Regions from separate parts of the Homo sapiens genome. Here all the other regions are linked to region 1. The links come from fine-mapping of genetic effects on gene expression. A gene starts in region 1. Each other region holds a variant in brackets. All regions are shown on one strand. Distances are from middle to middle.

Region 1 (8,285 bases):
GGATTTGCTAGCTTCCATAATCACGTGAGTCAATTTCTGATAATAAATCTCTTTCTCTCTCCATATATATACACACATTCTACTGGTTCTGTTTCTCTAGAGAACCCTGATATATTTTTATATCACATTTATTTGGCTAATATTTTCTATGGTATCCCTTTTTTCCATTTCCTTTTGGAAATGGTGGTCCCTTAGAAACAGCAAATAGCTGTTTTATTTGATCTTTTCAGATGTAAGAAATAAATCAGATCAAGTACAAATTGCGATCCAGGATATTTTGAGTCAGTGTTGAGAAGCTTGCCTTACTGCATTTCCCGTACAGTTTATAAAGCGTAAAGATGAAGTACTTTGGCCTTTTTTCATGATTGTCTGTTATACATTAATTTTTTTAGGGAAACTATTTAAGCTGATTTGTCTATAGCTGATTGGCTTAGTTTCACTGAATCATGCTGACAAGGATATAAACCTTGCGTTTTGTGTTTATTATTACAGATGGTGTTTTGGGGAAATGAGGATGATGAGTTTTGGTTTGTGGTTATACACAGTTGGACTTGGGTATATCTAAACTGTGGCCTCCATTTTTATTTTTCTTTAACACACTATCTAAGACCTCTATGTTTTAGAGTAAACATTGAGTTTACTCTGTTTATATTTTCTGTGACCATGGATATATTTAGATTTATTTCTACTGCTACTTTATGTTTTGTTTTTATGACCATTTTTCTTTGCTTCCCACCCATTTCCTGCCTTTTGTTGAACAGATTGTTTTTCTCTTCTCTTTCCCTTAATGCTTGGGAATCTTCAATAAAACCAATTTCCAGGAAGAAAAAAATACCAGATATACAAAAAAGAAAGTTGAAACTGTCTGGGCCACAGAAGAACCTGGGTTATCATTAGTGAAAAACTCTACGCTTTTGTTAATGGAACTTATGATACAAAGTGCCCTTTTGAAACTTCCACTTGATGTTTTTGGTGTTGGTGACAGGTGAGAAAATCTACTCTTTAGCTAATAATAATCTATAAGAAGCTGTTTAGCTGTTTTGGTGTTCTCCTGGGCAGCTTTCTTCTTGGTGTGATAAGTTGCCCTGTCTAATACGGTAACCACAAGGCACATACAGCTATTTAACTTAATTAGTTTCATTACTTATACTTTAATACAAATTTAAAATTCAGTTGCACCAGCCACATTTCAAGCACCCAGTAACCCCATTTGGTTAGTGGATGCTATTTTGGACATTGCAGATTATAGAATATTTCTATCATTGCAGAAAGTTCTGTTGGACAGGAGGTGATAAGCTGATAGTAGTACTGCAGCTTTATACATTTTGAAGCAGAGCTATTGGGAGACGGCATCATATTGCAGAATTTGGAACTGACAATTCACATCAGCATTACCTGTTCCATTATCTTCTGCTCCTGTGGTGAACAGTGACCAGCATGAGATGCAATGCCCACCATGGAGGCTGCTGGGGGCTCCTACCCCTGCCCACAAACTCCAGGCTTGGTCCTCACAGGACGTTGGAGGTAATTTATATGGAGCAACAGCCTAGAGAGCAATGGTGATAACAGCAGCTGAGAGAAGCTGAGGGGCCAACTTCTGTACAGCAGTGGGAATCCTGACTTTTTGAATAGCATAAGAGGCCAAGCAAGACTGGAACATTTTTAGTTGAAGCCAGGTTGCAAATGGTTGAGCCTGGGCTAGACTGGTCCATAACGTCTGGTATTTCTTTCTTCCTTTCCTTTTTTTTTGAGACAGGGTCTCGCTCTGTCACCCAGGCTGGAGTGCAATGGCAGGATCTCAGCTCACTGCAGCCTCTGTCTCTCGGGTTCAAGCGATTCTCCTGCCTAAGCCTCCCGAGTAGCTGGGATTTCAGAGGCACACCACCACGCCCGGCTAATTTTTGTATATACATATTTTTAGTAGAGACAGGGTTTTACCATGTTGGCCAGGCTGGTCTCAAACTCCTGACCTCAAGTGATCCGCCTGCCTTGGCCTCACAAAGTGCTGGGATTACAGGCATGAGCCACTGCGCCCAGCCTCTGGTATTCTTTTGAAACTTTGACCTCTACCACCTTGTTGCCAGACTGGTTTAGGTATCATCTGATTAGGTGAAGATTACAGAGGTCTTCCCCGTGCCTGTGGCACCACTGGCACAAATGGTCACTAGCTGGAACTGATTTAGGACGGCACTGGCAGGGAAAACACATGCCAACCACCATCTGCCCCTTCATATCCTGAATGGGCAGGTGAGACTCTCTTTCACTTGGCCAGCCAACATACATCATCAACGTACATGTGCCCATTCATTTCAGGAACAGCTTTGTCTCTTTGAGGAAGAGAAGCTGAAAAAGACAAGCCTTTTGTTTCTCCCTCACTCCAGCATCATCTTGGCACTGGTAATATATCCAAGATATATTGGTGTTAGCCAGGCTCACATTTACCCCTTTGATTGGGTTAATTTTTTGAAGTTCCAACTTCTGTTGTTTCAAGTGTTCAACTTCTGTGCAGAGCTTATGAATATGATTTTTCGCCACTGAGTTCATTTCTTCCACAATGTAGGTATCCAAATTTTTTGTAACTTACAAAGTCAAATCCTTTGGATTTCCCACTAGGCTGTGTCATCACATAGACACTTTAGCATTGTACCAAATAAATGAAAAAATTTTTTCAGGTTGTCATCATTCATATCTTCCCCAGAGCTTTAACTTTGTGCTAGGTGCCTTGTTAAGTACAGGGATACAACACAGTTCAAGATTAAATGTCCCTGCCCTCATAAAGCCGCCCGGCAGGAAAAACAACTAATTAAGCTATTGTCAAGTTATTTACAATGAAGACAAAAGCACAATATGCTTTTGGATTTGTTTGATTTTATTACTCTTTAAGTTTGACATATGAAAATACCATACTTAAAACAGTTCATGTAGGGTACCTGAAACAAAGGCACTAATACAGTACTAGAAAGGTGGTGACGGATTTAAGAACAATTGTGCCAATTTCTAATCTGTTTTATAGTAAAGTTATAGAATTGGAGGAAACTGCTCCTGTACAACTTTGGAGGAGGGTAGGAGGAGCAGGGCGTGAGAATGCCTTTCCAGAAGCTTAGGAGTACGCCCAGTCGCTGCGTGGCTTCCCGCATACTCAGCCCTGCGCCCGCGTTGGCGTGGCCTGGGCGCCCCCAACGTGACTCCGCCCAGGGCGCTCCGTTCTGCCAGCTGGAAACTACAGTTCCCAGAAGGCCACGCGAGCCCGGGAGGGACGCGGCGGCGGGGGCTGCAGGAAAGGCGCGAGCAGAGGCGGCGGCGGGTGTACTGTAGGTGGTCGGTCCGGCAGCAGCCCGGCCCCCGGACGCAGGACGTGGCCCCAGGCAGCCCTCGCAGCTCAGTGCTCTAGCCGGGGCAAGCCCGCGTCTCCGCCTGCTGGACGGGCCCAGGCGAGATGTAGGGCTCTGGGCGCGGAGGCCGCCGGTGGGGCGGCTGATCGCGGAGGATCGCGGAGGGCGCGCCGAGGATGGAGAGAGCGATGGAGCAACTCAACCGCCTGACGCGCTCGCTGCGCCGCGCGCGCACCGTGGAGTTGCCCGAGGGTGAGCCGGGTCGCGGGGCCAGGCTGGCCGCGGGGCTGGGGGCGGCCAGTGGGGCAGGAGCTCCGGCCGCGTCAAGGTCGGGTGGAAAAACTAACTGAAAGCTGAGAAAACGCCCACTTTTACTTTCCAGAGCTGAGAGGCGGCCCCGGGCCCCGAACTCCCCTGGCCCGACGCTCCCACCCCGGCAGGTGGGAGTTTTCGGGAGGAAACTGGGTTGGTGGGGGTTCCGCTGCTGGGAGGAGCGAGACAAAGGTCTCGCAACGTCTGTCGATTAGGGGTCTTGGCAAAGGGGCAGGAATACCAGCCGGAGGCCCGAGACCCGGAGTCAGAAAACATCATAATTGCGGGTCATTTAACAGTAGCTGGGGATAGAGATGATCCAAAGATACTGTTTACTTTAAGCTGCATCGGGGGGCCAGGCGGGCTTTTATTTTTGTTATTTTTTAAAATGTGGGGCACTGCCTTGTTTTGATAACAGGCAAACAAAGGGTTGTCAAACATCAAACAGGTACTCTTAAAGTACTGTATGGGTAAACACAATATATTTTTCTTTAATATGCATGCCTGCCTTCATTCTTCATTTATTCATCAGACTAGTATTGAGTGGGCTAGCTGGTAACTAGGACGCATCTGCAAAGAGGAATAAGGCATGGTCCCTGAGGATCAGGACTTTTAGTTCAGCGTGCCAGGGTTCCCTCAGGACAGGTAAAACTCTGCTAATAACAAGGAGAGAAAATAAGCAGTTTTGTTTGCAGCGTCAGGAATTCAGACATTTTAGTGGTGATGGGAGACAGCAGTGCTGCTTCTAAGAAGCTTTTGGCTCTTTATGCCCAAGTGAGAGAAGGGTTGGGAGGAGGTTGTAGCTGGTGAATAGCTTTTTTCTTAATTGTAGTAGTTTATCTTACTTTTTCAAAACTCTCTTTGAATTGCTGCTGGGTGGTTTGTAGGATAGGGAAGGAGACCTTGGCAGACGGTCATGAAAGAAATGTGGGATTGGGTACTTTGGCGATAATTTTCTTTCCTTTCTTTTATAGAGATGAGGTCTCACTATGTTCCCCAGGCTGGTCTTGAACTCCTGGGCTCAAGTGATCCGCACCCTGCTCCCCCCAAAGTGTTGGGATTACAGATGTGAGCCACCGCGCCTGGCCTGGGGATAATCTTCTTGAAAAAATGGTCTCTAGTCTCTATTTAGAATTCAGATTTTGGTAACTAGATTCTAGCTTCAACTTTTTCTATATTTTCTTTCCAACTTCCACCTTTGAATCCATTTCTTAAGTGCTACTCTTACTTATTTTTCGTAGTCGAATTATTGGTATAGCTTTATGAAGACTACATGTATAATTTATATTGTCTAGTTTGAATCCCGATATTTTTTACATAAATGTGATTTAGAAGACTTTGATAATGTTACTTGGTTTTAAAAGTAATATAGTTTCATTGTAGAAAATTTGGAAAATAAAGAAAAATAGAAAAAAATATGTCATTTCACCATCCAGTTATAAACAGTGTTACCATTGTTATTTCTTTTTCCCTCCCTAACAAGTTAAAATCATGTTGCATATAGTCTTTTATTTTGTGTTTAGAAAACATCCTTTTTTTTTTTTTTTTTTGAGACGGAGTCTCACTCTGTCGCCCAGGCTGGAGTGCAGTGGCGCCATCTCGACTCACTGCAAGCTCTGCCTCCGGGGTTCACGCTATTCTCCTGCCTCAGCCTTCCCAGTAGTTGGGACTACAGGCCCCTGCCACCAGGCCCGGCTAATTTTTTGTATTTTTAGTAGAGACGGGGTTTCACCGTGTTAGCTAGGATGGTCTCGATCGCCTGACCTCGTGATCTGCCCGCCTCGGCCTCCCAAAGTGCTGGGGGATTACAGGCGTGAGCCACCGTGCCCCGCCCCAAATGTTTTTTTTTTTTTGTATTCTTCAATAGGCTTAATGACTTCAGAATTTCATAGGATGCATGTAACAAATGTTGAATCTAAATACTGTTTTTAAACTGATTTTATGAGAAACAGCTTTGTATTTAAGACATAGTCTGCCTCTAAATACTTCCTTAGGGTTAATTCTTACAAGAAGAATATCTACAATACATTTCTAAGGCTCAACATATCAGTTTCTCAACTTACTCCTTGGAAAGTTCCACCAGCAGTCCGAGAGTGCCCAGAAACTAGAGTATTATTAGTAAAAGTAAAACTTTTCCACATAGGCAAAAATGGCATCGTTTGCATTTGCTTTTCTTTGATTATAATGTTCATTTTGTTCCTTGAATTTAATTTATCTTTGTCTCTAAGCTCTGATGAGTCTTTGAATTCTCTGAGCTTGGCTCTTTAAAGTATATCATACATATAGGAATATATATATATATATGTAAATATATATGTAAATATATATGTAAATAAATATATATATGTAAATATATATATAACATTCCTACTGATACAAATCCACATTTGTGCTTACATTTTAAGAGCTGAATGGAAACTCTGAGATCTCTCTAAATTTAGAAAATAATCAGATTTTTTTTGCTTTGTTAGAATTCAGTAATCAATAAGCATCTAATTACAACAAACTATTAAACTTGTAAACTTTTTAGTCAGCTTGTACTCTAAAATTAATTTTGTTGCAAAGGTTGAAACTATAGATGTTTGATAAACTGAGTTGGATGCTATGTTTCCTTGAGATGATGAAAACCTGAGTATTACCCTAAGTAATGGAGTGCAGGTAGTTGAGTCCTCCTAGGCAGGCCTAACACAGGAATATTCTTGAGAGAAAAAGAGGTGAAGAGTAAGAAATTACTTTAGGGATATGGATTCTTAGTAGTGTTTAAAAGTTGGAGGCCGGGCGCAGTGGCTCACACCTGTAATCCCAGCACTTTGGGAGGCCGACGTGGGTGGATCACCTGAGGTCAGGAGTGTGAGACCAGCTGGCTAACATGGTGAACCCCCGGCTCTACTAAAAATACAAAAAATTAGCTGGATGTGGTGGCGGGTGCCTGTAATCCCAGCTACTTGGGAGGCTGAGGCAGGAGAATTGCTTGAACCTGGGAGGCGGAGGTTGCAGTGAGCCAAGATCGCGCCACTGCATTCCAGCCTGGACATCAAGAGCGAAACTCAGTCTCAAAAAAAAAACACATAAATAAAAGGAAGGTGTATGTTGTTAGTGTATGTAAAGTTTGAACTACTATATAGTGAATGCAGTTTGTTTAATAAAATAATAAAATTTGAGCCCATTTTAGCATATGTGATTGGGATAATTGTGTTTAAAAAAATTACTCCATGTGATGGTTTGAAGAGAAATTGTATATAATTAATTACTCTGAGCACCTTTTTTTTGTTAACAGTTGGGTTTTGAAACTGTAGTGATAAAAATGGCAAACATGTCTAATAAAGTGATAGATTAAACTTTTCTTGTCACCCTGGAGACTTTAATTATATACCTAATCCTGAAGGTGTCTTCAAGAGTAGACAAGGAAGTATCTGGCAACAAATTGTATTCTGTCCTTTCTTAGTATAGTATTTCTTGGATAGTCTTCTTCTAGCACCACAGTTGTGGTTAGATTTATTTCTTCATACTTACCTGTTAATGTATGTGACCTACTTTTTTCTTTAGGTTAGATGTGACTTAAGATGTAAATCTAATTTTTATCTAAAAAATAAAAACCTTACAAGTACAACCATTGTGAACCTTATTATGCTCACTAACGCTCACTTAAAATTATGCACTATCTTGATTTAAAGTTTATCTTGATTTAAGTTTAAACCCACAAATAACAGTGTTTTTTATGACTTTATTATGGGGTGACTTAATGGAAATTCTCATGGTTTAGAAGTTCAGATTTTTATTGGGACATGTATTATTATATGAACGATAAAGAATGTTGTCATGCCAAGGGAGGCTTAGTGTAGTATTTTCAACTCCTGGTGGTGACTCATTGGTAGTTTCTGAGAGCAATTAGTGGGTTGCAGTCAGCATTTAAAAAAAGAAATATAAGAGGATAAAACAGAGTCTATTTTACATATTAAGAATAGTATTCTATTGTAGACCTTCTGGTTATGTGGTATATACTGGGTGCATTGTAGGATATATTATCTTTTTATTTTTTATCTTTATTTTTTATTTTTTTTTCCGAGATGGAGTCTCGCTCTGTTGCCCAGGCTAGAGTGCAGTGGCATGATCTCGGCTCATTGCAAGCTCTGCCTCCTGGGTTCACGCCATTCTCCTACCTCGACCTCCCGAGTAGCTGGAACTACAGGTGCCTGCCACCATACCCGGCTAATTTTTGTATTTTTAGTAGAGATGGGGTTTCACCTTGTTAGCCAGGATGGTCTTGATCTCCTGACCTTGTGATCTGCCTGACTTGGCCTCCCAAAGTGCTGGGATTACAGGCGTGAGCCACTGCACCCAGCCAGGATATATTATTTGTAGAGGCTCTGGAATCAGCCACATAATGCCACTGTTACACAGCTTGTTACTTAACTAGTACTTCAGTTTTCTCATTTGTAAAATGAGGATAATAGTACCTACTTCATAGGGTGGTTGTGAGGAGAAAAGCAATGATACATGCAAAGTGTTTAGAAAAGTGCCTTTAAGATAATGGTTCTTAAATGTTATTAATAGGATTTATTAGTATTTTACTTTTATAGTGAAAAAGTTGTTGCATCTGCATACTGAACTTGTGAATGTTGCCAAGGACTAAATTGTTTT
Region 2 (8,285 bases), 20 kb after region 1:
TTATGGCTTACCATATTTCTCTCTTCTCCTTTTTAAGTTTATGACTTTTGTTTATTTTGAAGCTTATTCCCCTAGCCTTTGTCACTGACTTTTAAGGGACTTCCTAGGAGCATCTCTGCTGAGGTGTGTTATGTGTTCATTCTTGGAGAGCTGTTTTTCGTTATGTTCTTTTAAATACTTTTAATATGTTCATTGTAGAATTAGATAGCTAGTCAGAAAGGAATAAAAAAGGTAACAGAGGGAATGAGCACTCCCTGTATTCCTTGCACTCTGAGATAATCACGGTTAAAAAAAAAAAAAACTTTTGTATTTTCAGTAGAGACGGGGTTTCACCACGTTGGCCAGGCTGGTCTTGAACTCCTGACCTCAGGTGATCCACCCGCCGGCCTCCCAAAGTGCTAGGATTACAGGTGTGAGCTGCTGTGCCCGGCCAATAAAACCTTTTTTTAGAGACAGGGTCTCACTGTCACCCAGGCTGCAGTGTAGTGGCATGATCATAGCTCACTGCAACCTCAAACTCTTGGGCTCAAGAAATCATCCAGCATCATCCTTCCAAGTAGCTGGGACTATAGGTGTGTCTCACTACCCTTGGCTAGTATATTTTATATTTTTTTGTAGAGGTGGGGTCCTGCTTTGATGCCCAGGCTAGTCTTGAACTCTTGGCCTCAAGCAATCCTTTCACTTCTGCATCCCAAAGATAAAATTACTGTTAACATTTTGTCCTGTTATTAGACTTATATTTTATATAAAGTAGTATTGGCCATTTTGCCATACCACTTTCTTTGCAAAAATAAGTTTATGTATTTTTGAATCACATGGAGGTGGTATGGGATATTGCTGAAGAGATTGTTGAAATCCCAAAGTTTTAACCAAATTGTCATTATTTAATGGAGCATTATTAATTTTAGAAGTAGAGATAACATAGAATTATGTTACTGTTGAGTAGTTGTTTTGAAATCATGGCAGAAAATGTTAAGTTTTATTTATTAAATTATACATTCCTTTGATAGTATTTATATTTTGAATCTTTTAATTTTTGAATAAAGAATAATATTGAATATTTACTTACCATGCTGGTTTTCAAGGCCTTTATGATTAAAAATTGGGGAATGAGGTATAGAAAAACAACTTTCCTAAAATTTTGAATGGCTTATTATAGAATAAACTCAATCATGATTATTATATGGAATCTACAATTCCTGTAAAAATTCAGATTTTGTTATGTATTAATAATATAATACCACCTATTCTGTAAGGAAAGACTGTATTCTGAATATCCGTAGGATGCTTAGTGACACGGTACGTGCAACAGAGGGTTATGAAACCCTAGAAATGACATAGATCTTTCCTTAGGACACTAACCAGTTTAGGCATGATGGTTGAATGTTAATATAATCTGTTTTAATTGCATAAGATGTTTTCTGTTAATTTCTTCCCTTCCTTCCTGTACTTTAAGGGAGGTGGAATAGAAAATTTGTAAAAATAAAATTTTTATTTAACAAAATTATTCATGTATGTATTTAAAGAATCAAATATTCTACCTGGCTTGTAGAAAACAGTCTCTTGGCCTTCCTCCCCAACCTCCAAACTTCCCACTCCCTAAACAACTTCTCTCAGCTATTTTTTTTTTTTTTTTTGAGACAGAGTCTCACTGTTGCCCAGGCTGGAGTGCAATGGCGCAATCCCAGCTCACTGCAACTTCCACCTCCCGGGTTCAAGTGATTCTCCTGCCTCAGCCTCCCGAGTAGCTGGGAATATAGGCGCCTGCTACCATGCCCAGCTAATATTTTTTGAGACAGAGTTTCACTCTTGTTGCCCAGGCTGGAGTGCAATGGTGCTGTCTTGGCTCACTGCACCCTCCACTTACCGGGTTCAAGCAATTCTCCTGCTTCAGCCTCCTGAGTAGCTGGGATTTCAGGCATGTGCCACCACGCCCAGCTAATTTTGTATTTTTAGTAGAGACGGGGTTTCTCCATGTTGGTCAGGCTGGTCTTGAACTCCTGACCTCAGGTGATCTGCCCGCCTTGGCCTCCCAAAGTGCTGGGATTACAGGTGTGAGCCACCGCGCCCAGCCTTTTTTTGTATTTTTAATAGAGACGGGGTTTTACCAGGTTAGCTAGGCTGATCTCGAACTCCTGACCTCAGGTGATCCACCCGCCTTGGCTACCCAAAGTGCTCGGATTACAGGTGTGAGCCACCGCGACGGGCCTCTCTCAGCTATTTTAATGGATTTTAAAATGTTGTCTCTATATCTAAATAGCATGCTAAATGCTACTTCCTGGTTTTTTGGTTTTAGGTATCACCTGTTGACTTTCTGGAAGATGAGGCTATTGTTCTCTTTTTCAGCCCCTCCTCCCGCCCTGTGGTGTATAAGCACATTAGCCTTGTATCCCTCCAATACAATTATTGTAATTTTAGTTAGATCATTTTTGTGTGTTATTATTTTTTTGAGTACACGAAAACTATTCATAGTTAAGCCAAATAGTTGGTTATAGTTGCTTTCCTTTCTTGCATAACATTTTATTTTCCCTGTAGTTAATGATTGTCTTTTTTTAGAAATTAAGATAATTGTAGATTCACATGCAGTGCTAAGAAATAATAGAGAGAGAGAGTTGCCCTGCACTTTTTGCCGAGTTTCCTCCAGTGGTAACATTTTGCAAAACTATACTATAATATTACAGTAAGGACATGGACATTGATACAATCTGTCTTACTGAGATTTCCTCAGTTTTATTTTATTTTATTTTTTTGAGACAGAGTCTCGCTCTGTTGCCCAGGCTAGAGTGCAGTAGTGCAATCTCAGCTCACTGCAACCTCCGCCTCCTGGGTTCAAGCAATTCTCCTGCCTCAGTCTCCCGAGTAGCTGGGACCACAGGTGTGCGTCACCATGCCCAGCTAATTTTTGCATTTTTAGTAGAGATGGGGTTTCACGATGTTGGCCAGGCTGGTCTTGAGCTCCTGACCTCAGGTGATCTACCCGCCTTGGCCTTCCAAAATGCTGGGATTACAGGTGTGAGCCACCATGCCTGGCCTTCCTCAGTTTTAATTGTATGTGTGTGTGTATGTTTATGTATTTTAAGTTCTATTCATTTTTATTACTTGTGTAGGTTACCTGTGTAGTTTTATTACCTGTGTACATGGTAGGTTTTCACCACCATAGTCAATATTCTGAACATTTCTAACACCACAGAGATATGTCATGTTGCCCTTTTATAACCATACCTTTCCCTTTGTCCTTCACATCCCATGGCTAACCTATAGCAACCATTAATTTGTTCTCCATTAGTCATTTCAAGAATGTTACAGAGATAGAACTATATTGTATGGAACCTTTGGGGATTGGCTTTTTTTGTTTGTCACATTCCTTGGAGACTTATCTAGGTTATACTTATCAATAGTTTGTTCCTTTATAATGCTGAATAGTATTCCATCCAGTAGTGGATATACCACCATTTGTTGGACTGTTCACCTGTTAAAAGACATTTGGTTCACTTCTGGTTTGAGGCTATTATGAGTAAAGCTGTTAAAAACAGCAGGGTACACATTGGGATAAATGTCCAGGAATGCAGTTGTTTTCCGTAGTGGCTATACTAATTCACATTCCCACCAACAACATATGATAGTTCCTGTTTCTTGACATCCTTGCCAGCATTTCTTATTGCTTGTCTTTTGGATATAAGCCATTTTAATAGGGGTGAGATGATACCTCATTGTAGTTTTGGTTTGCATTTCTTTGATGATCAGTGATGTTGAGCACCTTTTTATATACCTGTTTTCCAGTTGTATGTCTACTTTTGAGAAGTGTCTACTCAGATCTTTCATTCTTTTTTTAATCAAAATTTTTTTTTTTTTTTTTTTTTTTTTTACTATGGAGTTGTTTGAGTTCCTTATATATTCTGGTTATTAATCCCTTGTCAGATGGATAGTTTGCAGTTATTTTCTCCCATTCTATGGGTTGTTTCTTTACTTTGTTGATTTTTTCCTTTCCTGTGCAAAAGTGTTTTAACTTGAAGTGATCCTATTTGTCCGTTTTTGCTTTGGTTACTTTTGCTTTTACTTAAAAGCAAATTTACTCAAGAAATTTGCTCAAGGGGTATTACTCAAGAAAGCTTTGCCCAAACCAATGTCCTGGAGAGTTTCCCCAGTGTTTTATTTTAGTAGTTTCATGTCTTAGATTTAAGTTTTTAATTAATTTTTGTTTGATTTTTGTATATGGCAAGAGATATAGGAGCCTAGTTTCATTTTTTGTGTATGGATATCCAGTTTTCCCGCACCATTTATTGAAGAGATGGTCCCTACCTCCAATGTGTGTTCTTGGCACCTTTGTAGAAAATGAGTTCACTGTAGATGTGTGGATTTATTTCTGGGTTCTCTGTTCTGTCCCATTGGTCTGTGTGTCTGTTTTTATACCAGTAACATGCTGTTTTGGTTACTATAGCTCTGTAGTATGATTTGAAGTCAGGTAATGATATTCCTCCAGTTTTGATCTTTTTACTCAGGATGGCTTTTGCTATTCTAGATCTTTTGTGATTCCATATAAATTTTAGAATTATCTTTTCTGTTTCTGTGAAGAATGTCATTGGTATTTTGATAGAGATTACATTGAATCTATAGATTGCTTTGAGTAGTATGGACATTTTGACAGTATTGATTCTTCCAACCCTTAGGAATATTTTTCCATTTTGTGTGTGTGTCTTCTTCAGTTTCTTGCATCTTTTTCTATAGTTTTCTTTTAGACATCTTTCACTTCTTTGGTTAAGTTGATTCCTAGGTATTTTATTTTATTTGTAGCTGTCATAAATGGGATTACTTTCTTTACTTCTTTTTCAGGTTGTTTGCTGCTGACATCAGAATGCTACTGATTTTTGCATGTTGATTTC[A/G]TATTTTGCAACGTACTTATTTACCAGTTCTAACAGTTTTTTGGTGGAGTCTAAGTTTTTCCAAATACAAGATCATATCATCTGCAGACAAGAATAATTTGACATCTTTCTTTCTAATATGAATGTCCGTTATTTCTTTCTTTTGCCTGATTGCTCTAGCTAGGTCTTCCAGTACTGTTTCTAATAGTGGTGTTAAGAGGGTCTTTTGAAGAGCAAAAGTTTTTTAACTTTGAAGTCAAATTGATCAGTTTTTTGCATTATGGATCATGCTTTTGGTATCAAGAACTCTTTGCCTAGCACTCACTCCTGAAGATTGTCTCATATATTTTTTTCTACAAGTTTTATGTTTCTGTGTTTTACATTTAAGTCTATGATCTCTTTTGAGTTACTGTTTGCATAAGTTATGAGGCTTAGGTCAAGGTTTACTCTTTTTTTTCTGCCTATGAATGTCCAGTACTAGCACTGTTTGTTGAAAAGGCTGTCCTTCCTACATGAATTTGCTTTTGCATCTGTTTCAAAAATCAGTTGGGCATATTTGTGTGGACCCACTTGTGGACTTTATATTCATTCCACTGATCTGTGTGTCTCTGCTAATCTCTCTGCTAATACCACACTGTCTCGATTACTGTAGCTGTAAGTCTTAATACCAGGTAGAATAATTCCTCTCACTTTGTCAAGATTGTGTTAGCCATTCTGATTCCTTTGCCTTTCCATATAAATTTTAGAATAAACTTGTCTGTGTCTACAAAAAAACCTTGCTGGGATTTTGATTGGAGTTGCTTTAAACTGATAGGTCAATTTGGGGAGAATTGTTATCTTTACTGTGTTGATTGAGTCTTTTAATCCATAAACACAGTATATCTCCACACTTACTTAGGTCTTTGATTTTATTCATTAGAATTTTGTACAGCACAGTGGGGATTTTGTGCATGTTTTGGTAAGCATATAACTGTTTCATTTTCTTTGGCATAATTATAAATGGCCTTGTGTTTTTAATTTGAGTTTATGCATGTTCAGATGGAAATGCAATTGGTTTTTGGTTTTGCAATCTTGCTGAACTCACTTATTAGTTCTGGGGGACTTTGGGCAAATTGCTTGAGATTTTCTACATAGACAGTCATGTTGTCTGCACGTAGAGACAGTAATTTGTTTATTTATTTATTTAGACAGAGTCTCACTCTGTCACCCAGGCTACAGTGCAGTGGCGCAATCTCAGCTCACTGCAACCTCTGCCTCCTGGATTCAAGCAATTCTCCTGCCTTAGCCACCCTAGTAGCTGGGATTACAGGTGTGTGCCACCATGCCCAGCTGATTTTTGTATTTTTAATAGAGACGGGGTTACACCTTGTTGGCCAGGCTGGTCTTGAACTCCTGACCTCCGGTGATTCACCCGCCTCGGCCTCCCAAAATGCTGGGATTACAGGTGTGAGCCACCGCGCCAGGCCTTTATTTCTTTCTTCGCAGTTTGTATGTCTTTTGTATTTGTTTCTTGCCCTACTGCAACTTTATTACTTTAAAGTTTTCTTATAACTTTTTACTAATTCAATTCCAAGGTCTCTCTCAGCTTTGTAAATATCCTCTTAATATGTATTCAGTACCTTTCATGTGCTTGATTATGTCTTGAAGGAGTCTCTTACGGAGACTTCTGTGCTCTCTTGGCTGGATTGGTTGATACCTAGGTCTGCTGCACAGTTGTTTGGAATGTCTCATCATCTGGGGATTCCTTTTGCTTTTTTCTTGCTTTGGGTTCTCTTGTTATATGGGTCTCATATCCATCTTTTCTGATAACTATTCTGTCACTCTGATGGAGCACAACCCTGAGAGTTTCCTGAGAGTGTGCATGGGAGATGTGTTGCCACCTTGCATGTTTGATATGACTTGAGTCTTTGAGTCTGATTATGTAATTGACAGTTTAGCTGACAATCTAGACAAGACATCATTTTTCCTTAGAATTTTGAAAGCATTGCTTTGTTGTGTTCTAGCTTTGTTTTGAAGTTTAGTGCTATTTGGATTCTTGATTCTTTATATGAAACCTGTTTTGATTTTTCTCTCTAGAAACTTATAGAATCTACTTTGTCCTTAGTGTTCTAAAATCCTGTGATTATTATGTCTTGCTTTGGATTTATTTTATCCATTTCGATGGATAATATTGAGACCCTATCAACCTGGAAACTCATGTAATAGGAACTTATGAGAAATATTCATAAATTATTACTTTCATGATTTCTTTTTCTGTCTTTTCTCTGTTTTATTTTTTCCCCAACTCCTATTATTTAAATGTTAGACCTATTCACACTAGCCCTTTAATTTTCCTACTTTTTCTCATTTCTTTTCTTTGTACTTTTAGGGAGACTTCCTCAATATTATCTCCTAATTCTTGTTTTGAGTTTGCACGTCTCTATCATAGTATTAATTTCCAAGAGTTTTTTTTCCTTGTCTCTTTCAAAAAATAGTATCCTTTTCTCATTTCAGGGATGCAATCAGTATGTTCTCCCTCTGACAGTATTAAATATAGTTTTTTCTTGAATATTCATGGTTCCTTTTTCCCCCTACTTTTTGCTTTAAAAAAATTTGTAGTTTGTCTTTCAAATTAGATGCGTTTATCAGATGTTTGGTGGAAATGGAAAAAGCTATTTGAAGGCTGTCAGCATGAGTGAGGCTTTGTTCACTAGAGGCTTCAGTGTAGGATGATCTCCTTGGACATTTGCCTCTTAGACCTTTCCAGTGTCGATTTCTTTAGGCATTTACTCTTGAACTGGTCATATTCCTCAGAGAAGACTCTTCCAACTGCCCGGAAGATGTTAACAGTCTGCGTGCTGGATAGAGAAGAATGCTTTGTAAAATCAATATTCAATATTTAAACTTGCACTTAATCTCCCCTTTTTAGTGTGGTATTCTTTGTTCAATGTGCCTGTTGTCTCTTATCTAGAGACTGTTTTCAAGCCTCTTGCATTCTATCTGGTTGAGTGGGGGCCATTACTGGCCTTGCACAGTTGGGGAGGGGTAGAGATATGAGGCTCTAAATCTTATTAAATAAACTTTCAACCTCTTTTCAAGAGGTGCATGGTACTTACTATTGATTCTTGAGCCTTTTGGGAGTCCTGTGATCTGAATCACATTTTTTGGGGGGTTTCTCTAATACTGGTGTAGCATTCTGACAAGTCAACAAGTATAATCTGACAAGATAAAAAGCATCATCTACTTTCTTTGCTTCCAAAACTTGCTGTTCTCTCCTCTGTATCTTTATGGATCTAGTCTTTTAAGGAAATACTCTTTACTCTCATTTCCGTGGGGTTTAGGGAAGAAGTAGAGACTGATGCATGGATTAAACCTGCCATTTTAAAACAGGGATTTCATGATTTTCTTTTTAATGAAAAAAAATCATGTGAAAAATTAATGGATAGC
Region 3 (8,285 bases), 48 kb after region 1:
ATTCATCTCTTTCAAGTTTAAAGTTTCACAGATCTCTAGGGCAGGGGCAAAATGCTTCCAGTTTCTTTTTGCTAAAGCATAGCAAGAGTGATCTTTACTCCAGTTGCCAATAAGTTCCTCATCTCCATCTGAGATCACCTCAGCCTGGACGTCATTGTCCATATCACTATCAGCAGTTTGATCAAAACCATTCAACAAGTCTCTGGGAAGTTCCAAACTTTCCCACATCTTACTGTCTTCTTCAGAGCCCTCCAAACTGTTCCAACCTCTGCCCCTTACCCAGTTCCAAAGTCGCTTCCACATTTTCAAGTGTCTTTATAGGAGTGTCCCACTCCTGGTACTGATTTTCTATATTAGTCAATTTTTCACACTGATATAAAGAACTACTTGAGACTGAGTAATTTGTGAAGAAAAGATGTTTAATTGACTCAGAGTTCTGCTGGCTTAACAGGAAGCATGACTGTGAGGCCTCAGGAAACTTACAATCATGGTGGAAGGCAAAGGGGGAAGCAAGCATCTTCTTCAGATGGTGGCAGGAGAGAGGGAGAAAGAGCGTGAGGGGGGATGTGCCACACACTTTTAAACCATGAGCTCTCATGAGAGCAGCAAGGGGGAAATCTGCTCCCATGCTCTGGTCACCTCTCACCAGGTCCCTCCTCCAATTCAACAGGAGATTTTGGCAGGGACACAAATCCAACCCATATCACCCTCTAAACCTAGAAATAATCTTAGTGTCTCTCCCATGTTTGATCTCCATATTCTAGATTCCATATCTTCTATTATGGTTTATTCTCTTTCTTTGGAGGAGGATATGCTTCAGTAGCTTCTTGAGAAAAGGTGCATTGAAGATAATTTAAAAAATCTTATAAAATAGTTAAACATGTTTTTTATTTATAACCATCTATTTGAATAATAGTGTAGTTGGCTATAGAATTCTGCATATAATTTATCTTACAATTTTGAAGGCTTTTTACCTTTTAGATTTCTGTGTTGCTGTTGAGAAGTTTTAATGCCCACATGATTTCTGTTTATCTCTGGAATCTCTTATCCCTGATGTTATCATGAAATTTCACTTTGACATGCCTCGTTGAAGGTCTTTTGATTTAATAGACTAGACACGTGTTGAGCCTTTTAAACCTGGCACCTGATGTCTTTCAGTTCTGGGAACTTTTTTGGTATTATTTCTTGGTTATTCCCCTTTGGTCCCTCACCCCCTTTCTTTTCTTTATTCTTATTTTCTGCAGTATGTCTCCCTTGATTGATTCACAAATTTTCTCATCTTTCCTATTTTCTACTTTGTCTTTTTATTCTACTTTGTAGAATTCCTGAACATTTTCTTTTTAAACTTCTGTTGAATTTTTATTTATTGCATTGTATTTTTGATTTCTCATTTCCTAAATATTTTCTACCCAACATCCTTTTATCATTCCATGGTATAATTTCTTTTCTGTTCGAGGTTATCAGTTACTTTTCTAATTTTTGTTGTTTTCTTTGGTTCCCTTTACTGTCTTTGTTATTCTGAGTTTCATTTTTCAGTTGTAATTTTTGTTTTTCAGGTTAGAGGCCTGCTTCAGTTGTATTTTTAATATTGTCTGTTCATTCATGTGTAATGGTGAGGCACTCAAATGTTGGCTGGAAGCGTTGTGTACATGAGTTGAGTTTGTTGACTACTTGGTTTGACTGTACACCAATGTTTCTTGGTCTCAACACTGTTGATATTTTGGATCTGATAATTCTTTGTTGTGGGGGCTGTCATCTGAATTTTAGGATATTTAGCTGCATCCCTGACCTCTACCCACTAGCTGCCAATAGCATTTTCCCTTCCCTGGTCATGAAAATAAAAAAGTTGCCTCATGTTCCCAGGGGAAAATTTAACCTTGGTTGGGGATGACTGCTATAGACCCATTGTCCCGAATTGGGCTGTTTCTTTATTTTTAATTTTTGTTTCTTTTTAGAGATAGGGTCTTGCTTTACAGATAGCGTCTTGCATGCAGCACCATGCATGGCTAATTTTAAAATTTTGTTGTGGAAATGGGATCTCTCTAAATTGCCTAGGCTGGTCTTGAACTCCTGGCCTTAAATGATCTTTCCACCTTGGTTTTCCAAAGTCTTAGAATTACAGGCATGAGCCACCATGTCTGGATGAACTGAGCTGTTTCACTGGGGACTTTCTAATGCCAATATCTGTAAGATTCTTTTCTGATGCAAGTCTTGAGAGGAAGCTTTTAATTCCTTCTACTTGAGATTTTTAAGCCTGCCTGCTGGATTTCTGGGAGCCTAGTTGGAACATGGAGGCTGGAGGTTTTCACTTAATTTGTTGTTTTCACGATGGCTCCTCATCTTTGCTCTACCTGTGTGTCTTGTCTCCCAGTCCAGAGCCTCCCTGTTCACTTTGTGCAGAGAATAAACTTCCCATCTTCTGAGACAGTGTAAAGAGGGATAGTAACTAACTGGATAGGATGGGAAGAAAGGTCCTAGGGGGAGAGTCTGTTTCTTCTATTGACTTTCAACTATTCCTCCTATTTTTAGCTCTACATAACCATTCCTATATTCCAAGGTACCTGGTACTTCCAATTCCTCTATTCCTTTTTTGTTTTCTTAATGTGTGTGTTCTGTAGTAAGAATTGAGTTGCTTATTGTTGGAATCCCCATTTGTGGGCAGTTAGACTTCAGCTTTCTTTGATCTGCTAAGTCAGTTACTATTTCTCCATTTGCTTGCTATCTTTCCAAAACTTACTGACTTATCCAGTATGCTGTTGTTTTCTTTCTTGTTCTTCCTTTGGGTGTTTAGTTTTATTATTTTACTGACATTGTACTTTGTTTAAAAGCGGCAAAAAAGATGAACAGATGTGTTCAATCCAGAAGTAATAAGCGTCTAATTTCAAACTATTTTGTTTTTTTTTAAGGCATGGGGTCTTTCTCTGTTGCCCAAGCTGGAGTGCAGTGGTGTAATATAATTCATAGTAGCCTTGAACTCCTGGGCTCAAATGATCCTCCCACCTCAGCCTCCTGAGTAGCTAGGCCTACTACTATGATGTGCTGCCATGACTAGCTCATTTTTTAATGTTTTTGTAAAAATGGGGTCTCACTATGTAGACTAAACTGGTCTCAAACTACTGGCCTCAAGCCACCTATTGCCTCATGTTTTATGTTTTTACATTTTCTTCCTTTTTGCAGGAAAAACTCAAATGAGGATTTTAGGAATAAAACCATGAAAGTTTTTTTTTT[TA/A]AAGGTTTTCAACTGGGCCCTGTCCTGTCCTTAATCAACAGATATGTATTTTTAAGATTTTATAGTAGCGTACTCTCTCTTAGTATGAGTCAAATGATTAGAGGAGTAGAGCTTAGGGGGCTAAGTATATATTAATGGCAATCAGTGAAATTGAGCCTGTATATGCTACTGTTAATAGCAAAAGGGCTTCTTAGCTTTTTAAAATTTTATATTTTAATAATTATGCTCTTGACTTTGGGAAAGTTATTATTCTGGTGCTTAGTTTTTTAGAGGTGAAAAATTCTGGTATTTAAAGCAATTTAAATTCAAGTATCTAAAGCAATAGGGTCCAATTCACTAGCCACATGTGGCTATTTAGATTCAAATGAGCTATAATTAAATACAATTAAAATTTTAGTTCCTTAGCTGTACTAGCCACATTTCAAGTACTTGGTAGCCAATATGTAACTACTGACTACTTTTGATACAGTGCTGCTCTAAAGACTCCCAGATTAACACAGTTTCTATTACACTGATAATTCCACATATATGTGTGTTGTGCCTGAGACACTTAGAGCTTACAAAAAGTTGAATTTGCTCAGCCATAGTAATTGTCACGTGCCCACTCAGTTCCTATGTAAAGCTTCAAGTTGTGGGAAGAACTTCCCTTATATGGATTAAAATTGTGGTAATTGTATCTTTTGTTTGATTCCTCTGGCTTTACTTTTAATTATTTTTTCCCCCTCAGACAGTGCAGTGCTTGCTAGACAGTGGTGCTGATATTAACAGGCCAAATGTATCAGGAGCAACTCCATTGTACTTTGCTTGCAGGTATGATATTTTATATTTCCAGATGCTATATATGCTCATATATATATATATATATATATATATGTATAAATAAAGAAATATATATATTTCCAGATGTATATAATACTCTATTTCTAGACACACACGTTTCTGTGTATTTTCTAAAGCTCTCTTGTTTTCCCACAAATATGCTGTCTTTTAAGAGGAAGTACAATCTCTTTTTTAAGATGAAGTGTTATGGTTCTATTACTTAACTGTATGAGGAAAAGTATTTTCTGTTATATTTAATTGCCATTGCTTTTATGTTACATGTGGAGCTTTTGATTTGCTTGATTACTTCAATTTTAGACTAAGTACTTATTAACAAAAGATAAATCAGTAATCTGGTAATTCCCATCGTTTACTGTGTTATGTAACCAGGTCATTTCCAGTGGGATAAGCTGTTGGAATATATCTTGATCCAGAGCCATGTCTTTTCTTTCTCTGTATCTATAACCAAAAAAAAATCTTGAGTCAGTCTTGTTAGATATTGTTATACATTAAGTTATTTTTGTATTTCTTTATTGGTTCATTTTCTTGACGTGTACATTTTGTTCACTTATTCATGTATTCGGCAAATGTTTAGTTAACGCTCACTGTGTCATGCATTGTTGTAGGTGTGTAATACAGTAATAAATAAACTCTATTCCCTAAGGAGCTATCAGTATAATTATACACATGCCGTCACACCCACACCCACACACATATGTAAAAATATATACACACCTACATATTATGTATTATGTAAATGTAGTTATAGAATACTATAGTAATTCTTCTTTTTGATTTAAATTATATGAATTGTAATATTTATTTAGGCCTTCATATTCCGATATAGAGCTCTCCAGAAAGCTCCTCTCTTCTTCTTTTTTTCTGTTTTATATCATTTTATTGGAAGTTGGTTTTAGGTTGAAAGACCTGCTTTTTTTCTTGTTTAGCTTCTTGTTGGGGTCTCTGATGTGCCTTTGATGAGACCAATTCAGATCATCTATTTAACAACCCTGTATTAGAATTCAGGGGCTTCTGGGTTTCTAGACTTCCAGATCTTTCTGATTCCAGCCATTTTCTTGCATTATATTTATGATTTGGTTGCTTGGCTAGAAAACCAGTTCTTTCCATAGTGTCCTGAATTTATGAATAATATCATCATTTGATTCCCTGTAATCATGTTGTATCTTGAAGGGTTATCTTTAGATCAGACCTTTTTTGAACCTCCAGATTTGAATGTCCATCTGCCTGTTTAACATCATCACTTAGAAGTACCACAGAATCTCACATATTAACATGTCAAAATACAGCTTCAGATTTTCTTCCTCAAACCTTTCCCCCAGTTTTTCCTCATCTTAATCAATAGAAACCTTATTGTCTCAGTTGTTTAAATTAGAAATAATTAGGTTATTTTTTATTTCTCTCTCTCTCTCTTTGTGAACTTGGAATTTATTAGTAAGTTCTGTAAATTCTACCTTCAGAATATGTTCGGAATCTGAACTTCTAACTCAACCAAAACCACCTTAATGTTGTTACCTTTTGCCTAGAGTACTGCAGTAATCTCTTCACTGGTCTCCCTGATTCCTATGTTGTTTCCCTCCAATCTCTTCTTTCCTCAGCAAAGTGATCTTAAAAAAAAAAAAAAAAAAGAATCTGCTCTTGTTACTTTGTGTTTAAGCCTTGTATATAAAACTTTTCAGTGCCTCGTTGTTACATTTTAAATATAATTCAAGTTCTACCTTGGCCTGTGAGACCTCCATGATTTCACTCCTGTTTAGCTCACTGTACTTGAACCACAGTGATTCTCTTTGCGTTCCTTAAATGCAACCAACTCTTTCAGCAGGCTTTTCTACATGGTATTTGTTTTGCCTGAAATGTTCTTCCTTAGGCTTTTTACAGGGCTATTTCTTATTCATGTTACTGCTTAATTAAGTAACTTTTTAGGAAGGCAGTTCCTGACCAATCTAAGCAGGTCGTTCCCCAGATTTTTGATCGCAGTATCACAGTCATTTCCTTCATAGCACTTCCTATTCTGTAGTTGTTTATTTACTTTCTTATAGTCTGTCTCCCCTACATGCCTAAAAATTCAGTGAAAGCAAGAATAGTGTTTATTTTACCACTTTATGTCCAAAGTGTAGTACAGTGTTTTGCACTTAGATGCATAGTAGATGTTTTTGAATGAATGCATCACTATGAAAAATATCTTATAAAAAACAATGCCATTTATAATAGTTAAAATAGAGACATGTTAGTGTTGTGCAGAACTGGGATATCCCTATGGTTAGTCTGAGCTTAGGGATATGGCAGAAGGATTTTTAAGAAATACTTTCTCCTAGTACTGTATTCCCATCATTTAGTTTTAATCTAGCAAATATTAGATCTTTTTGAACAAAGATGGTTAAGCAAGTCTGTGATGAAATGTGAAACCAAAAAATCATTGTTGTAGAAGAATAATAGATATGGAACATGGTTCTTCTGCAGGCACACTTTTAATTTTACTTGTGATATCTTGATACAGGTATAAATTAAAAATATAAGTTATTCCCAATGTGTTATTTCTGATAAATGAAAGGGAAAGGAATATAGGAAATAGAACAAGTTAACCCCAGGACAAATTATAGGGCTCTAAGATAAAGGTTAAATGGAATGTATAGTTTTTATTGGTTGATAAGTATTACTAGATATAATATATTATATCATATTCAAGGGTCAACTACTGAAACTGTTTTCTTTGTATTTGAATTTTGCAATTAAATTTAGAATGGTATTAAGATACAGGGGAAAGAACCTAGTTTGTGTAGGCAGGTTCAAATCCCAGCACCAGAGCTATACAACATTAGTCAAAATTCTTGATCCCTGAAGCTTTGTTTGTTTGTGAAATGGAAGTGCTGATATCTGCCTGGTGAGATTATTGTGAAGATTAAATGTGATGGCTTCTATAAAGCATGCTGCAGAGTATTCAACACTTAGTAGTTGATAGGTGCTCACTAAGTTCTGACATACTTCTTTCACTCTTCAGTGAGCATAAAGTCGTGTTGTCCTCATTTAATTTAATTGCTCTACAGGGTTTTCTTTTGTTTCTTGTCTAATTCTAAGCACTTTTTTTTTTTTTAATTTTTGAGACAGAGCCTCAATCTGTTGCCCAGGGTGGAGTGCAGTGGCGTGATCTTGGCTCACTGCAATCTCTGCCTCCTGGCTTCAAGCGATTCTCCTGCCTCTGCCTCCCGAGTAGCTGGCATTACAGGCATGCGCCACCACACCCAGCTAATTTTTATATTTTAGTAGAGATGGCGTTTTGCCATGTTGCCTGGGCTGGTCTCGAACTCCCGACCTCAGGTGATCTGGCTGTCTCATCCTCCCAAAGTGCTGGGATTACAGACGTGAGCCACCGTGCCTGGCCCTGGGCACTGTTTTATAATGTAGTGTTTCTGTGAGTCTTTTTCAGATGGATTTTGACCTAAAATTATGATAGAAAGGGTTTTCCAGCCAGTTTTCTTCTCTGGATACTCTGGACAGGACATTATAACTCATGTAAACTATATAACTAATTAACTCATTCCTTCTGTCATGTAAAATATAGGCACACATTGATTTTTTTTTCCCCCTGCCATCTTTACACACCTTTAAGTCTTTTATATGACTTCTACCAATATTTCAAATCCTGAAATTATTAGATTGGTTTTATATTCAATCCTTATGTTCTCAGTTCCTTCAACTGAGTTCTTCAAATAAAGGTTGGGATGTATAATGGTTTTCAGGTATTTTCTGTTTGTAGATAACTTTTATTCTATTAGGAAAAGCAAGGTTTAGTTAGAGTTGTATAGATACAGTAAATTAGTAAGATGTTAATGGAGTTTTAGAGGTCTCTACTAGAGACAGAAAGGGCTAAGATTTAGAACATGGATTTGTAGCTACTGCGAAGCAACTCGTTTCAGTTAGAGTATTCAAAATCAAAGTAGCCATATAAAAGAGTTCTTAGACTTGGCCAGGCACAGTGGCTCACACCTGTAATCCCAGCACTTTGGGAGGCTGAGGCGGGTGGATCACGAGGTCAAGAGATTGAGACCATCCTGGCCAACATGGTGAAACCCCGTCTCTACTAAAAATACAAAAATTAGCTGGGCATTGTGGCGCACGCCTGTAGTCTCAGCTACTCCAGAGGCTGAGGCAGGAGAATCACTTGAATCTGAAAGGCGGAGGTTGCAGTGAGCCGAGATTGCACCACTGCACTCCAGCCTGG

Evidence for each region. PIP is the estimated chance that this variant, and not a neighbour inherited with it, causes the effect.
Region 2: its variant is fine-mapped to the expression of HACE1 in thyroid (GTEx, PIP 0.97).
Region 3: its variant is fine-mapped to the expression of HACE1 in whole blood (TOPMed, PIP 0.96). The same link has a PIP of 0.9 or more in blood mononuclear cells.

Annotation. Positions count from the first base shown.
Region 1 is chr6:104,854,866-104,863,150 of GRCh38, reverse strand. It overlaps HACE1 (HECT domain and ankyrin repeat containing E3 ubiquitin protein ligase 1), which reads left to right and starts at 3,232. Exons shown (of 24, transcript NM_020771.4): 1 at 3,232-3,584. The coding sequence starts at 3,509. It also overlaps the pseudogene LOC100422315. RefSeq lists enhancers at 3,143-3,437, 3,052-3,551 and a silencer at 3,174-3,803.
Region 2 is chr6:104,834,471-104,842,755 of GRCh38, reverse strand. The region is part of intron 5 of HACE1 (HECT domain and ankyrin repeat containing E3 ubiquitin protein ligase 1); the gene reads left to right. Among named protein-coding and RNA genes, the nearest start is that of HACE1, 21 kb to the left of the region's middle. The variant A/G (reference allele first, on the strand shown) is at 4,881.
Region 3 is chr6:104,807,065-104,815,349 of GRCh38, reverse strand. HACE1 (HECT domain and ankyrin repeat containing E3 ubiquitin protein ligase 1) reads left to right here. Exons shown (of 24, transcript NM_020771.4): 7 at 3,957-4,039. Among named protein-coding and RNA genes, the nearest start is that of HACE1, 49 kb to the left of the region's middle. The variant TA/A (reference allele first, on the strand shown) is at 3,229.